Linked DNA regions of Homo sapiens. The protein of the gene in region 2 interacts with the protein of the main gene of each other region in a pairwise test. Each region holds a gene or a part of one and is shown on either strand. Other genes may lie near its edges.

Region 1 (3,500 bases), on a different chromosome or scaffold from region 2:
TCATGAGGGCAACACAGACAATAAATCCATAGATAGAGTGTTGGCAGACAGAGAAAAGCACTATAGGCTAGAAAAAGCAAAGGAAGGGGACTGGGAGCTGCTGGGGTTGGGAGGTGGGGAGCGAGAACCTCATCAAGAAGGGGGTAATAATCTTTAAAGGCAGGACAGTGTGTATTTCTTAACCGACGCTGTTCAGAATCTGAAGATATGCCTACATAATTGTTCAGGTAATTGTGCAGATAAAACATAATTAAATGTAAAAAATGTGAAAAGACTAGTTGGCATTCTGGAGTTCAAATAACCAGCTGATTGACTTATTCTTTTGAGGTTCTAATTGTACAAACTTTTGCTGTCCACTACAGTTGACCACATGTGACAATTTACATTTAACTGAATTAAAACAAGATATTTAACTTTGTTTGCATTAGCTGCATTTCAAGCGCTCAAGAACCACATGTAGTTATTGCTTCCATACTGAATAATGCAAATACAGAACGTTTCCATCTCTGCAGAAAGTGCTGTTGTGCTCTGTTTGCCTAGACCATGTAACATCATCAGCATAACTGATTGTTTCACCTCCCCTGTCTTCCAAATAAGGCTGTATAACATGACGTTACATTGACACCCACATATTTGGCAGGAACGAGGGGAAAAGTCACAGTCACATTAGGTATCATTATAGCCACTGCCATACTCTCGGTTCTAGAGTTTTAACATTTCAGACATTTAGCATTTGATACTTCTCTGCAATTAGCAACTATTGCCTCCAGCTGGCAGTAAATGCCATCCACATCAGATACCAACTTTGAAACTATGATAGAAAGCTTACACAGAAGCCTATCAAATTTATGAGTGAGGAATCATCCTGACCTGTTTATAAGCAATCTAGAAGTACATAATTGGGACAAAACTATCAATGTAGGCAGCCAGGTGTAAAATAATAACGACCGAGAGAAGACAATCTTACAAAGTGAAATACAAAACAAACACTCAGATAACATGGGCATAATTAGCAAGTTTCTCATCAGCCCTGGTATGTACTGGAAGGTTTCATTTGCATTTTCCTTCCTAACACACCCTGAATCGCATTTTGAAATAAAGACATCTTGTTAGCTGGCAAACCATTCTTCCAAGATGCTCTGGTATCAAAAGACCTACCAGTTGACTTCAGCTTTTAAGTGCAAGTCATGTATTTAGACAATGTATTTAGTCATTTTGCCTATACTGTTGGATTGAATAGGAAGCAGTACAGTGGTCATTTTCTTAACTGGTAAATAAAGAATAATGAGTTCATACCTTTTGAGGCTTTGTGATTGATTAATGTGTGCTAACTTGGCCAAGTTCCTGGTATGTATTCAATAAATGGAAAGTGACGAAATGTTTAGAATGATGGCAAGTTTTTTAAATACCAAAAAGAGAAATAAACCTCCTTTGAGAAACACGAAGGAAAGGTTTTCATTTGCTTATTTTTAAAGTGTTTACACATCTTTACTGAGCAACTGCTTTGTGTTGGACACATAAATCAGCCCTCCTTGTCACATGCAATTCCAACTTTAGTGCATGACACCAATAGAGAAAAACAATCATAAATAGAATCATTTTGTCATTGTCTTTTGTTGTTGTTTTCTTGGAGTTGGGTCTTGCTCTGTCACTCAGGCTGGAATGCCATGGCACAATCACGGCTCACTGAAGCCTTGAAATCCTGGGCTCAATCTTGCCACATCAGCCTTCCAAGTAGCTAGGATTACAGGCATGAGCCATTATACCCAGCTAATTTTTATTTGCAGAGCCTGGGTCACACTAAGTTGCCCAGGCTGGTCTTGAACCTCTGGCCTCAAGTGATCCTCCTGCCTCTGCCTCTGCCTCCCAAAGCACTGGGACTACAGGCGTGAGCCACCATCCCCAGAGACTGGTAAATGTTGGGATAAGAGGCAATCACAAAGGGCTGAGTAACCTTAAATCAAGGTCATATGACACTGCTGGAGGTTCAGCCAGGCTTGCCAATTCTGGAGGTTAAACGTTAAGTGGGAGATGTCTAAGAGAAGAGGTGAAAAGGACTGAGGCTATTCCAAGACAGGGCAGTGCATGTGCAGATGTGCAGAGATGTGAAATGATGTCTTGGATTCAGGAGAGTATGTGTGGACTCCAGCACCACTGGTCAGATGAGGCATGTATGAAGGGAAGGCAGGAGGACAGGTTTCAAAGATAGTCAAGGGGCTAGATCAAAGGACACTGTGCAAAGCAAGAGTCTGAGCTTCATCCTAAGAGCAATAAGGAGCCACCTAAGGGTCACAGCAGGAGTGTGGTATGACCAGCTTGTAACACAAATGATAAATGTCTGTTTAACAGTTGGCTCACTCACTGACCGAATGAATTATTAGTACACGAATAAACAAATGCATGAAGAAGTGTACAATCAATGTCGCCGCCTTCATGTGATAGTCGAAGAGCAACACTGTAACACTGAAACCCAAACAGAGCAGAATTTGCGTTTTCTCCGCTGAGAATACGAGGTTTGGTGCCACGTCCATGACACAGAAATGAGCTCGAATCCTGCAACTGTCACTTTTCAGAAGTTAAGGGGTTTTAGTACTCTACACCCAGACTCGGAGTTTACAGATGCTGTAGCTGAAACCCTAAGCTTCCAGTCCATTCTCTTCCATCCTGTTAGAAGTTCCCGTTTCAATGCAAAAACAAAATGAGCTCCTTCTTATCCTGAGAAGGAAACATAGATTTGGATTTGTGTATAACTGCTGGATGTTTCAGTTTAATGAACCTAATTAGGAATTACAGAGATTATGATTAAACATATTAAATGATTAATAGCATTATACCGCTCATGTGAAAATTAAAATTAATCATCTCTAGTCAAACAGCACTTTGGAGAAATCTTTGCATTGTTTCCTTTGATAAAAACATACAACGCTCAATTAATCATTTTGTAGTGTATGCTTATATACAAATGCGTATAAACTGTTATGGAGAAATACCTGTGTATTAAAAAGAATCCTTAAAGCATGCAAAATAAAAAAGTAAGCCAAAAGTGTTTCAGGTCATTGTGGGTGTATGGAAAGGGAAAAAGAAGAGTGTTAGGAAGTAGAGGTTGAGGAGTGAATAAAACAACAGAAAAAGGAAATCTCTTTCAGCCTGCATGCCTTTTATATGGTGGGATGCAGCACAATGAACCAGGGTTTTGGAATCACACAGACCATCCCTGTTATTTGCTAATCTTAGGCAGGTCACTTTTCTTCTCTGACCTTCACTTTACTTTTCCATCAAAGGACATTAATGGGGTAATGGGGCTAGGTGCAGTGGCTCATGCCTGTAATCCCAGCACTTTGGCAGGCTAAGGTGGGAGGATCATTTGACACCAGCCTGCAACATAGTGAGACCCTGTCTCCACTAAATAAATTAAAAAAAAAAAAAATAGCTGATCATGGCCATGTGCCTGCCATCCCAGCTACTTGGGAGACCGAGGTGGGAGATGGCTGGAGCCCAGG
Region 2 (4,206 bases):
TTTTTTGTGCAGTCAGAAAATTACTCATTTTCTGACACATTTATTGACCAGCACATATTCTGCCCAAATGCTGCCCTCTATGTGCTCTGGTCTGCGTAGTCTGGGTACGCCTGGGGCCCATCGCTAGCTGGCATGTACTGTGACGTGCGGTGGCTGTGGGGGCAATGGTGGTGCAGAGCTGGGAGATGGGGGAACATGACCATGGAGGCAGCAGGCTGTGCAGCCCCAGCAGCCACTAGGGTCACCGGTACCCAGAGATGGCAAAAGGGCAGCATGCCAGGTGCAGGAAGTCCTGTGGTGTCCATGGCAAGGGTACTACGGGACGCTGTGGGAAGGGCCACCACAGGCCCGTAAGAATTCATCTGAGTGGGAGATCCAGGGACATAGAGGAAGGGCAGCGCTGCAGGCCCAGGGACAGCGGCCACCGGAGTGACGTGAGCCTGGCTGCCCTCTGACCACTCGCCGGCCGGCTGGGTCACTGGACTGTTGTCACTCGCCACGGCGGAATCAGGCACCATCACAGGAGTTGCTGGTGGAGCAGAGCCACTCCTGATTTGGGTGTTGGGACCGGCCGGTTCCCGGTGTTGCGGTGTGACCTGGTCATTCTCATTCGGAGACGTGTGATCTTGTTGCTCAGTGTCTGCTGGTGCCAGACAGGATCCAGCAGCTTCTGGCTTGTCCTCCTCCTGATGTCTTGGTGCAGACTTGACACCCACTCTTCTCTTCATCCTCACGAGGAGGTGAGGGGAGTCTCTTTGAAAGTAAGGATGGCAGTAGAACTCTAACTATAAGTCAAAGTTTAAATAAACAAAAGGAAACTGCAAGTCACAAGGATGGACTACAACTACCAACCATCTACGCCCCTGTGCAAGAGAACTCTACTGGCCCAGGAGGCCTTTCTGGAAAAGGTCCCAGTCCCCAAAGGAAGCTGGGGACTCGCGTTCACATCGTCAAGGTTTACCAAGTTGTGGCGGGCCTTTCCGTCTTGGAAAAAGCCTCAAAATGGCAGATTAGGGTGTCCATGGCCGGCGGAAAGGGTCTTTGAAGTTGCAGACCAGGAGGGAAGAAGATTCTGGGCCTCCCCCATGCAGTGTCAGCTGGCAACAGAATGCACCCCGGCTGGGTTGGAGGCCCTGGGTACTGGCTCTTCCACACCAGGGGCCCACCTACCAAGGGCAGCAGGAGCATCTGCACCTCCTGCGCCAGGCGCCCTTCAGTGCTTCCACTTGAGCACCTCTCCAGACACCAGCTAGGGTGACAGTGGTACAAATACCAGACTCCCCTGGCCTGCTCACCTCACAGGGTAATGTGCTGTGGAGTCAGGGGGACACAGCAACCGCCAGATGACATGGCTGGCCCCGGGGAGGACGACACGCAGATACGGCTACTTGGCACCTGTGATATTTTACACACTCGAGAGGGGCCCGCACCATCCTCAGCCCTCTCCCCACATTCACTCTTAGTTCATGTCACCTCCACCCAGAGGGGGACACAGGCCCACAGCGATGGCCCCACACCCTGCCTGAGGTCGCCCACTTCCCAGGAGGCAGTCCTGGGACTTCCACCCGACCAGGCCCCAGAGCCCACCGACTTAACCCCTCCAGAGGCTTGTCGTTCATTACCTTATTCAAGATGGAGACCAGCCTTTTTGCGGAGAAAATGCGGGTGAAGGTCCTGAAAGTGCATTGACGCCGTTTTCGGAAGCCATACAAGTTTAGCTGGCGGAAGAAGCTCTTTATCGAAGTTGTGGCAAACACTTTGTGTGCGACGTCCCTTTTGAGAATCTCCTTTTCAAAGAGTTTTTGATTGATCACTCTACAAGCCCCACTGTCATCCCACCAGATGGACGAAAACTGGTTGCTGCTGACCAGTCTCCACAGTTTCTGTGGAAAGGGGAGGGAGAGGAGATTATCTTCTCCCTGGGGCGGGACGTCACCGTCAGGGTGCGGCCTTCTGAACGAAGCTTCCTCGGCCAGAGGTTGGAAAGCGATTTCTTCTGTCAGCAGCCTCAAGTTAGGGCTCCCAGTGGACCCCGGGTCGTCCCAGGCAGGGGAAGGATCTGCTGGGTGAAGGTAGGTCTCTGACTGCAACTGGGGAGGGAAAGGCACCCTTTCCAAGCCATGATCCTGTCCTCTCGAATTTCTTTCTTCACAGCGAGCCATACTCAATGATCGCTTGTCCTCCATCTGGCAAACTTGCTAGTGCAGTGTGGCCAGCAGCACCCCTTGGCAGTCATGTAACCAGCCCCATGACATCATAAAGGGGCTCTGACTGCCGGGGGGTGGCATCTCCACCCCCAGCAAGTTGTGTAATAAAGGGCCAAGGCAGACAAGTAGCTGCCCATCTGCATGTGCACATTCTGGTCCTCACAGTCATTTCAATGGGAAAGATGACACTAGTGCACAAGAGTGCCGAGGGGCCCTGCCACACCGTAGATGCAGACCTGGAGCGGTCCCCTTGTCCTAGAGCTCCTGAGCCAGGCACAACTACAGCAAAGCCCTGGCTCAGGAAGGTCAGAGCTCACCGTCTGAGTCATGGGCCCACAGACCCCAGCACATGACTGACACTCGGAAGCACAGAACAAAGGGTAGGACGGTGCCCATGGGTCAGGCTGTAGCCACGCCACCCTTTCCACCCTGTCCTAGCCAGAGGCAGCAATGTGCTCCATACAGATCCTCCTAACACACCCACACTGTCGGTCCCCAGCACGCAGATGCCCGACAGCCCCTTAGGCAAATGGCTTAGCTGACTGCCCCACCACACGCCGTCGCCATGCAGTCCAGTGGGGAGTCGGAGGCAGCCTCCTTCCTGCCTCTCCTCGGCCTGCACGTGTCCCCCCACCAGGCAGAGACCCTTCTACACCCCGGGTGTCTGCGGTCACATCGCGGTGGGGCATGCAGCTGTTGGCCTTCGAGCATGTTTTGTTTTCCTTGGCCAGTGTCTCCAGAGAAACGCACGTGGGTTTGTGTCCAGCGGTCCATCTCTGCAACAGTTGTTCCTTTGGGATTGGATGCTAGGAGGTCACGGGAGAGGTGTCCATCCAAAGCAGTGTCTGTGTCACACACTGTCCCCACACACAGGGCCACCTCTGCACAGACTCCCCCGACTCGATTCTGGGCACAGAGCTCAGTGACCTTCCAGAGACTGCCACGAACCGGTGATGCCTCCACGCTTGAGACATCCTGACCGCAGGGCCCAAGGCGCACTGGCTCAGGGGGTGACAGTGAGGGGTCTGCAAACAGACTGCTGATGCTCAACCCGGCCGCTGCCGAGCTGTGTGACTTGGGCACGTCACTTAACCTCTCTCGGCCTCTGTCTCCTCCCGGGGATAAGAGTAGTAGCACCTGCTTCCCGGGGCTGTGAGGATCCAGTGGGACGTATAGGAACTAGCGAGGCACCGGCAGTTGGGTCAGAGCTACTGTTGTCACTTCACAAGGCATTTTCTTCAACAGCAAGTCGGAAATCTCATGAGCCTAAGGCAGAATCCACCTGTGGCCTCTGGTTACAACCCACAGGACTGAAAATCCTTCCAGCCACAGCAACTGGTGAATTTCCTGGTCAATTGCCACAAGTCATGAGCTGAACCCCACTTGAGTTTCAGTTCAGGCAGAACTCTAGAGACGACTAGGGCAAGCTAGACAGCGACTGCAGAGCCTTTTGTTGCAGCGTGAGCAGTCCTCAGCTGTTGACATCACTGGGGAGCAAACGAGGACCAGGAGCGGTGAAAGGACAGTGTCTGCTGCAGATTGTCGTAGCACCCAAGGAACACTCCAGAAAGCCTCCTAAGCAGTAACAAGTGTGGCAAGGTGTAGCCCAGCCAACAGTGGCATCTGCGAGGCGTCCCCTCCTTCCTCCCACTACCCCGTATACCCTGGGACCTGTGCACTGAAGGACTCATTCTAAAGGCTGTGCCCCTGCAGCCGCCAGCCTCACTCACTGGCTGCCTGTGCCAGCTAGAGATTTCTTTCCTCTGAGGCTGGCTGAGAGGACCACTCCAGTTTCCTGGCCCATCCAGCAAAGAAGATACACATCATGCACGTGTAAAATGAGGAACCGGTTTATTGAACAGCTTAAGGAGAGCAAAAATAGTGGCTTTAGCTACATTTTTTACACACTGAGCAGGAAAGTCTAAACCATCCCGTTCCCCTGTACCCCAAAGAGAACAGGGCTTGCTGGAGGCCAGTGCCAAGGGCGGAGTCGTGCTCG

What was found.
Region 1: the proteins of HSFX1 (region 2) and RBFOX1 interact in a two-hybrid assay, tested with the Homo sapiens proteins (one large-scale study listed by BioGRID).

The regions. Positions count from the first base shown.
Region 1 is NC_000016.10:7,576,024-7,579,523, reverse strand, and holds part of RBFOX1 (RNA binding protein fox-1 homolog 1), read right to left. Parts: intron 1-3,500. UniProt on the Homo sapiens protein: RNA-binding protein that regulates alternative splicing events by binding to 5'-UGCAUGU-3' elements. Regulates alternative splicing of tissue-specific exons and of differentially spliced exons during erythropoiesis.
Region 2 is NC_000023.11:149,772,662-149,776,867, reverse strand, and holds HSFX1 (heat shock transcription factor, X-linked), read right to left. Parts: upstream 2,801-4,206; 5' UTR 2,187-2,800; coding exon 1,623-2,186; intron 786-1,622; coding exon 78-785; 3' UTR 1-77.